2 separate regions of the Homo sapiens genome follow, and region 2 is linked to region 1. The links come from fine-mapping of genetic effects on gene expression. A gene starts in region 1. The other region holds a variant in brackets. All regions are shown on one strand. Distances are from middle to middle.

The links. PIP is the estimated chance that this variant, and not a neighbour inherited with it, causes the effect.
Region 2: its variant is fine-mapped to the expression of GNG11 in whole blood (INTERVAL, PIP 0.96).

The regions. Positions count from the first base shown.
Region 1 is chr7:93,919,891-93,924,287 of GRCh38, forward strand. GNG11 (G protein subunit gamma 11) reads left to right here and starts at 1,845. Exons shown (of 2, transcript NM_004126.4): 1 at 1,845-2,343. The coding sequence starts at 2,248. All of the region lies in intron 1 of LOC105375402 (a long non-coding RNA gene), which reads right to left. RefSeq lists an enhancer at 1,447-2,082.
Region 2 is chr7:93,942,962-93,947,358 of GRCh38, forward strand. No RefSeq gene overlaps it. Among named protein-coding and RNA genes, the nearest start is that of BET1-AS1, 23 kb to the right of the region's middle. The variant G/A (reference allele first, on the strand shown) is at 2,196.

The DNA of each region.
Region 1 (4,397 bases):
CAAAATAATTATATTTTTATGACTTAGAACAAACACACATTAACAAAAAATTAGTCAGGCGTGGTAGCGGGCGCCTGTAGTCCCAGCTCCTCCGGAGGCTCAGGCGGGAGAATGGCGTGAACCCGGGAGGCGGAGCTTGCAGTGAGCGGAGATCGTGCCAGTCACTCCAGCCTGGGCGACAGAGCGAGACTCCGTCTCAAAAAAAAAAAAACAAAAAAACAAAAAAACAAAAAAAAGAACAAAAACACAATAATTTATTTAACCAATTTATTTAACTTAGGTGCTGAACCTATTTAATTTAGGCCACATTCACGTTGATTACTTTCACTAATTTAAGGTATTTTTGACCAACCTTTTAAATTTAAGTAATAGAAAATTTTAAAAATGAATTAGTGCACAAGACAGATATGGACATTTGTCTAGTCTCCCTGCTTATTTACAAGTAAACTTCAGTAGATGCTCTAACTACTCTGAGCTTGGAAAACCCTGGTATTTCAAATATTGAAAGTGAAGCTCTTAAACATTTTCTTTGTGAAAATGATTTATCATATATAGACATACCAACACAATTAGAGACACAACATAGCTTAGCTGATTCACTACTTCCCTGCCTTACTATACATTTTACAAATTAGAAAACCAAAACTAAGAAAAATTAAATGACTTCTTCAGTGATGGCCTGTGGCAGAGCTGCAACTACACGCCAGGAGTATTCATTAAGTGGTTCATTGTTTTTTTCATTCTAATTTATTCATTGAGGTTGAGCGGAGCGTGGTAAGAAACTAGGAACGAACAAAAACTCCTGCTTCCTAAACAGGGAATGGTCATGGGTGTCTTGGGTCAGCTACTCTGAAATATTAAGTTAATATTTCACTTGCCTTTGACTCTGTGAGGCAGGAGGTTATCTCTGGAAAGAAAGAGAAATATCCAACTGCTAGGGAAGGTTTCTTACATTCATGTTTGATTTTTCTTCTACTCTTTTGACCACCATCAACAAGACTTTAGTTACAGTTAAAGGGAAAGTTTTATTGCATGTAAACTTTTTTCACATCGGACACTTTTCCTGGCTTTCCAGAGCAACAGCTAGATAAATAGTGCTTGCCAGAAAGTGGAGAAACTAATACTAAATGAATCCACTGCCTACATCCAGGAAGGTTCAGGAGCCAGGAATTCAAAATCCTTGGTGTCAAGTGTCACCCAAAACTTAGGGTTGGGGAGTGGAGAAAGGCTTTCGGTTAAGAACTCTAAGATTCCTGCTTCTGTCTTCTCTTATATCATCCTTTGATGCACCCCTCTACATAACATTCCCCCGGAAAAATAAAAAAAATACAAACTCTGCTGCTGTTGAGGATGCAGATGATTATTTAATAATAGAAAATGTTCTTGCAACTTGTAAACGATATTCACACCCTGTTGCCCCCTCCTCGCCCAAAATGTATAAACCCATATTAGGCCTCGAACAAGCCGGATGGACACAAATGAGCAGAACACTGGTGGGTATTTCTGGGATTAGGGCTAAGCTTCATTTTCTTTTCAGCCTTTTCTTAAGCGTCCGCATTCTCCACTATGCATTTATTACGTTGGTGCAAAACTAATTGCACCAACCTATATATGTAATTAGAGAAAAGTAATTACTTTTGCAACAACCTATGTATGTAATTAGGGAAAAGCTATATCTAGCATATTTTTAAAACTCTTTGAGAGGTGAAGGGTAGTTATTTCCTGCTGGGTAGTGTACTCCTTTTCCTAGCTTCACAAACAAAACCCGGATGTGACTTGGAAACGGAAAAAAAAAAAGGAGCGGGGGTGCGCGGAGAACACAAAGTAAAACTTCTGCTGTTCCCAGTCCTGCAGCCCCAGCCCAGCCGTCCCCCGCGGGCGTGGCAGGTCCTGAGTCAGGGCCTGTCCGTGGCCAGCATCCCTGCTGGGCGATTGAGCAGCGGGAAGCTGCTTGGACCCAGTCTCAAACTTAACCCTCATCTAGCACCCGGGCAGGCCTCCTGGGTTGCAGGGACTTGAGAAAAGGCAGAGTTCTCAGGTCCTAGGAAGCTGGGGCACGCTGGCGTGACAAGCGTCCCGGAGAAAGCCAAGCCCTCGGGGAGCTGGGGACCGCAGCAGGGCTGCAGTCACATCCTGCGCGGGTGGGCGGCGGGCCAGGCCTTCAGTTGTTTCGGGACGCGCCGAGCTTCGCCGCTCTTCCAGCGGCTCCGCTGCCAGAGCTAGCCCGAGCCCGGTTCTGGGGCGAAAATGCCTGCCCTTCACATCGAAGATTTGCCAGAGAAGGAAAAACTGAAAATGGAAGTTGAGCAGCTTCGCAAAGAAGTGAAGTTGCAGAGACAACAAGTAAGTTGGCTGTTCCGGAATATTTCCTTCTCTGAAATGAAGCAGGGTCCGATTTTTCCTGCTTAGTAACAGTAAAGCAAATAGTTTAGCTTATTTTTCCCCCTTTTTGTAGCTTCTCTTCTCACCACCCTTTGGCAGTGCCTGGGGACTGCCAGCTGATGTGGGGAAATCCTAGGAGGTAGAGGAGGGAGCAAGGATCTGATAAGTAATTTAAGGCCAAATGTCCTAACTTTTAAGATGCCTAGGAAGGGGAAAATAGACAAGAAATCTTGCTTTCCATTAGACAGCTGTTTTTCAAAACTCACTTGTAGGAAAAAAGCGGATAGCTACTTGGTTCTTTGATCTTTTACACTACTAGAAAGGATGATATTTGAAAGAAATTTTCTAAAACCGTATTTTAAAGTCTTACAAGTACATTATTTAATTTTGAATTTCACCAGTGGCCTTCAGTGATATGCAAAGAACAGTCCACCGAAATTTGGGAACAAAATATTAGAATTTCTATATTTATTTGTAAATCTCATCCCTTTATAATTTTCACTTTATGTTTTATTAGTATGCGATTAATACAGTAGTATCTGTACTTATTTATAAATAATTATACATACACTGTGGTGCATATGAAAAATTTTTTTAGTGATCACAATTTTAAAGTTTTAGAGACTATTGATAGAGATTACCATTTCATTGAGAACATATGACCCAGTATTCAATATTCTCCACTGAAACGTCTCGGGAGTTTTATAAGTTTTACTTCAATTTCTTACTGGTCATCAAGACCTTCCTTCAGACACTAATCCCTCTTCCTGTTTTAACTCAATCAGGCATCCTGTAGACTAGGAAAGGTCTTTGAATAGATATTGTTTAAAGATAATTAACCTTTCCTCTTCAGCAAGAAAATTTTGAACTGATCTTATTTATTATGGTTTAGCACTAGAAAAAATTAAGAAAAACAATGGAAATGAAGCGTTATAATATGCTCACTTGCCTTCCTGTTCTAGTTATAATAAATCTGTTAAGGGCAAGAGTCTTCACTGTTGAGTGATGATTAGAAGATGCAGGCATTTTTGTGTTTTACTTTTTACATATTTCTTTTCTCAAATTTAACCTTTCACATCCAAATCCCGGCTCTTCCTAGCTTTTATAATGAGCTGTCCCTTCTATCATGTTAAGGGTTTGTAGCTTTAAAAACACCAACGCGTTTAAAGGGGAAAAAAAGGAAGTTACACTACCCAATCAATAAGCACGCTTCTTGAAACCTTAAGGGACCCATTTTATGGATGGCGAAGTTCCCAGTACAGCAAGTGCTGGCCACTTAGATATGTTCACACAATAAACCTTAGGAGTTACATATTAAACAGAGTTTCATATGCTGAAGTACAGCATTGTCTATGCAAGGTTCTAATATCTTAATATTTGGTATCACTGTGTAGAACTTAGGAAAAAAGACAAGCGTCTTCTACTTACTCAGAGTTTTAAGTTAAGTGATGTGGATGCAACCGACTATGTAAAAATTGACTGTATCATTCATTAGCAGTTTCTCCCTGCTAGCCAGCCTGACCCTTTAGGACACGGCCTGTGGCATCAACTTCCCACCTCCAGAAACCTCAAGTGTATGCCAGAGGGAGAAAAAACTTTGGATATATGTAACCTTAGGAAATACAGAAAGAGGCATCTAAATCTCAACAATAATATTAAGACATTTGATTATACACTTGGAATTATACATTATTATTGCTAGGCAAGCATTGGAATGTTTAGAGATCATTCATCTCCCTCACTTTAAGGATTAAAAAAAACTTGAGTCCCACAAAGGCTAACTAGCTCCACATTTAAGACCACAGAGATAGATAGTGATAGGGCAGGTACTAAAACATTCTTCTTCTCATTCCCAGTCCATTATTCAGTCAATAAATAGTTAACATCTGGGCTACGTGTTCAGTCCTTAACTTAGGCCCAGACAAAACTTGCAAGTTGCATTCTGGCTGTAGTTAAATGTTTATCAAACATGTCCTCTTGATTATGGAAGGAAATGTATCAGAGGAGCAATTACT
Region 2 (4,397 bases), 23 kb after region 1:
GATAGTGTGGTAAGAAAGTTATAACGATTGACATAAAATTCCATAGCCTCTTGCCAAGAAGGTGACCATCCTTGTCTTATCATGGCGTTGAGTTTCATCTGCACTTGAGGTGTTGGTTAGATGAGAAGAAAACCTGACTAACCTTTGCTGCACACTGGGGTTCTTTTATTTCTCACTTGAATTCTTTACTGTATCATTTACAAACCTTCTCTCTTTTCTTCAAGAGTCCAGCACTATTTCAGCCTGCCATCTTGCTGGCAAATGTCCTACACGTCTACTCAGTGGAAAAGTTTGAAAATATCAGATGTACATTCCCCTAATTTTTCTCCTACCTACATGAGAATGTGTTAATTGTTCATCTTTCTTTCCTGGTCCTTCTCTTTTTCGATGGAGAAACAAGTGTCTCGTTGTTTTCTGTTCTTGTTTTTGGTTTTGTTTCTTTTACTAAGCCTGTGTTTTTGAACTCCGGTGTCTGTGGATCTCCTGGGACCTAAGTTATACCTTCTTGTCTTAGATTTTCTACCTCTTGCCCTCAATTGGTTATGTTTCTTTTTTCTGCCTAAAAACATGATTTGTACAATCTACCTAAATCAATAATAACAACAATTGTAACAACAAAGCAAAAGAAGAAATTTTTCTTTGTTCCTGCTTCCTGTGAGAGCAATACTCTCTATGGTTTTATTCAATTTCAGATCTTTTTATCATCAGGTATTTCATTGATTATATAATTTGCCTGCCTCCATTCCTTACTAATTAATCATACTTAACAATAATATTATTCTTAAATACATGCATTTCTTTCTCATCTTTTAAACGAGTCTCCATTTTTTCAGAAGAGAAAAATTAAATTCTATTTCTTTTGAAATATTACAATCTTATTCTCACTACCAACTTTCTCTCTATGACTTTCCAACTGCCAAGTCCAGTGTATTGAAAGTCTCATTCACTTGTGACCTTCTATATAACTGGAATCTGGTTTCTACTCAAAGCCTTTTCCTCCTTTGACATCAAAACCTCGCCTACCATGCTCCTCTGCTTGCCTCTGCCATTTGGAGCTTTTCCAACTTATTTGATAGCAACACTTTTCAGGCTCTTATACACAGACATACCATGATCCCTGTCTTACACACTTCTTTCTTTATCCTTCTGCATGCAGAAACTCACCACCAATCCAAAATACATTTCCCCTTACAGAAACCCTCAATTGCCTTATTTTGCCTTCTAATTTAAGTACAAACTATTTGGCTTCATGGTTCCACAACACACATTTTGGATCTCCTATGCCAGTATTTTCTACTTTTGTTCATCTGTATATACCTATCCAGAAACAGCTGGTTGATAGCTAAGTAAATCTTAAGCTTCTCTGTCTCCCAGTCACTGTGATACTATTTATTCTGTCTGAAAGTCTACTTGTCTCTCCCCTTCTCGCCACCTGTCAAGGTGACTGAGGCTAGAACGCAGACTGTTCAAGGGCATGACAACGACTTGTGGGTTAAATAGAAACTTGCTTAGTAACTAGCCTTTCTTGATATATTATTCTTGAACAAGTTCATTTTGTTTTTTCTCATCTTTCAAAGAAGTCTCCATTTTTAAGGGAAAAACTGTAAATTCTATTCCATTTAAGGAAATGTCCCATGATATTAGAAAGCAAGTTTATTCCTTTTTGGATTAAGAAATTTAAAATGGTTAATGTATATTTTATTTTTCAGTGAGAAAGTTAAAACTGCACTAGAATGACATTCCTCACTTCTTTCTTTTGTTTTCTATTTAAATTGTACATTTTGCTGTGTGCTAAAGCACTGGACTCTGTATTATAGAGAGACTGTGGGTGGTATGCATTTTGTGACCGTGTTAGTTAAAGCATGATCATACTGTTGACTGGTTTGGCTTAGACAGTAGGAAACATCTGGCAGTTTCCTGATATTTATCAAGACAGAACTGTGCTTCCTTTAAAAACAGTTTCACATGAACAATGCACTACATAATAGCAGAGGAATTTTATAACAACAAGTATAAAAACAAGAATGTGACTATTAAATATAGACATTAATTTTATAATGTTAATCAAAAAGTTAACTCTTTTTGATTATAAAGTTATACTCTAGAAATATATCAATGTTTATATTATAAATCCAGAACAGAGTGTTTGTTCTTGCTGAAAAGAATATCAGAAAATTGATCTGAGATAGTAGAGC[G/A]AACTTTGATTTATAATTCTTTGACTGTAATGTTCAAATATATTTACCTAGCCTGGCATAGTGGCATGTGTGCTTGCAGTCCCAGCTACTTGGGAGGCTGAAGGAGGTGGATCACTTTGAGCCCAGGAGTTCGAAGCTGTTGTGAGCTATGATTACACACTGCACTCCAGCCTGGGCAACAGAGCAATACCTTGACTCTAAAGCCAGTCCCAAATGAACTTGGAAGGAATAAGAATAGATCGGATAAGTGAGTGGGGTCTGATTTTTTTCTTTTTGAACCCTGTAGGTTTCAAATCCCAAGTTCCAAGGTCTATATCTTTCAGCTAAGGAACCTTAAAGTAGGGTGGCTTTTTATGACTTTTCCACTTTCATATAAATCTGTGATGGATACCTAAATGTGGCCTTGCTTCTGATCTGTATGTCAGAAAATTGGACTAAATAACTTACAGTTATGGTTCCAGAGTTAGCAAATATATCAACCCTTTATGCTTGGCTCAAAGTAGATATTGCTAATCAGTCACTGAGTGCTCTCTTACCGAGCTAGAACAGCCCTCATAATCTTTTCCAATAGCACTGCAGGTTTACTAATCAATTGGAGTTGACATGACATGTTAAACCTATTTGCTTTCCCAGGTTTAGACTTTCCAAAATATAGCAAATACAATCATTTGGGCAAAACTTATCATTAATCGCTTTCCAAAAGAAATGCTGAAAAACTATTTTGGCAGCCCCTCCTCTCTGCCTAATACATGGCTATTTTAGGAGACATATAACTGCATGTGATCTGATTCCTCCCTTATCTTTCTTTTCCAGTAGTGTCTGCAAAGTTTATCTCATCCAGTTTGAATAGACTTCTGAGCACATCGCTCTCAGGTCTTCACAGCTAATCTATTTTCAACCACGATATAACTTCCTATATCCAAGACAAGGTGTCCTTCCTTTTTAAAATAACTTATCTTTCCCAGTTCCTTTAATTCCTTTAGTTTCTTCCGTTTTCCTAAATGTTCATCACTTAGTCACTTCTTTACCTTATTATGTCTCTTCTCTCCAATAATTGCCCCTCCTCACTAAAAATATGCTGTCAGTTTTTCCTTGGCTTTAACCAAGCATGCAAAGCCACAGACTTTTCACCAATTCTACTCCCTACTTAAACTAGCACATTATAACATTTTTCCCCCTTTAACCACAATGTCTGTTAAAACACCAGGCTGTTTCATCAATCTCTTCTTAATTCCTTGCAAGGATTTTTAAACTCTTGGAATTTGCCAAATGCTTTCTTTTCCTTTTAGCCTCTCAGTAGCATTCTTGACCTGCTCCGTTTCTCTGGCTTATCTAGCCCTGCACAAAATGAATTTCTTCTTTGCTTGTTCTTTTTGTGTTTCCTTTGTTAACATTTTATATAATTCCTAAGGCCTTATTCTTGACTTTCTTCTCTTCCCCTTCTCTACGTCCTTCTCTTTGGAAAACTCAACTTTGAAATTTTCAGCTATCATCTCTTTACAGCTTTCAAATTAATGTGAGTACTCCAGGCTTCACTCTTAGAGGTGAGTTTCACATTTTCAACTCCCCTTCTGAACATAAACAGTGACTTTCTTTTTCCAATTACTTTTAACCTTAAGGAGACTTTTTAACCTGTGTTTTCATCTGTTGCATATCAGGCATGCCAAATTTAGTTGCTGTCCTTCAGTGTGTTTTCTGGGCCCCATTCTTCCTCCCGGTTCCATTGTCTTCTCGATTAAAGCTTTTATCACCCCAAAACAGAAAGCTTAAAATAGTTACATTGCAGCTTCATATTCCTGTCTCTATAGTCTTTTTTCTGAAAGCCACCTTGCAAAAGATCTTTAGGTTTGCCATCTTAAACCACTGTTTTAAAACCATATGTCTCTTGTCGAAAACCATCATGGGATTGCTATTATCTACTGAATGAGAACTGGGCTCCTTATTCTGACAGCCAAATTCTCCATAAGCCAGGCTTAACCTACCTTTAAAGCTTGTGCTCATGTCAAGCACACTACTTGCTGATTCCAAAATTTGCCTTGATTTTTTTTTTATGAGTGTGCACTTTTGTTTTGCCACTTTAGATTTCTGGAATTAATTCTTCTACTTCTATATTCCATCTTTTAAAATTCTACTCAATCTTTAACAGCCAACTCAAACAACTTCAGCATTAGCCTTGAGGTAGAGGTGTGACCAGGTCCATCC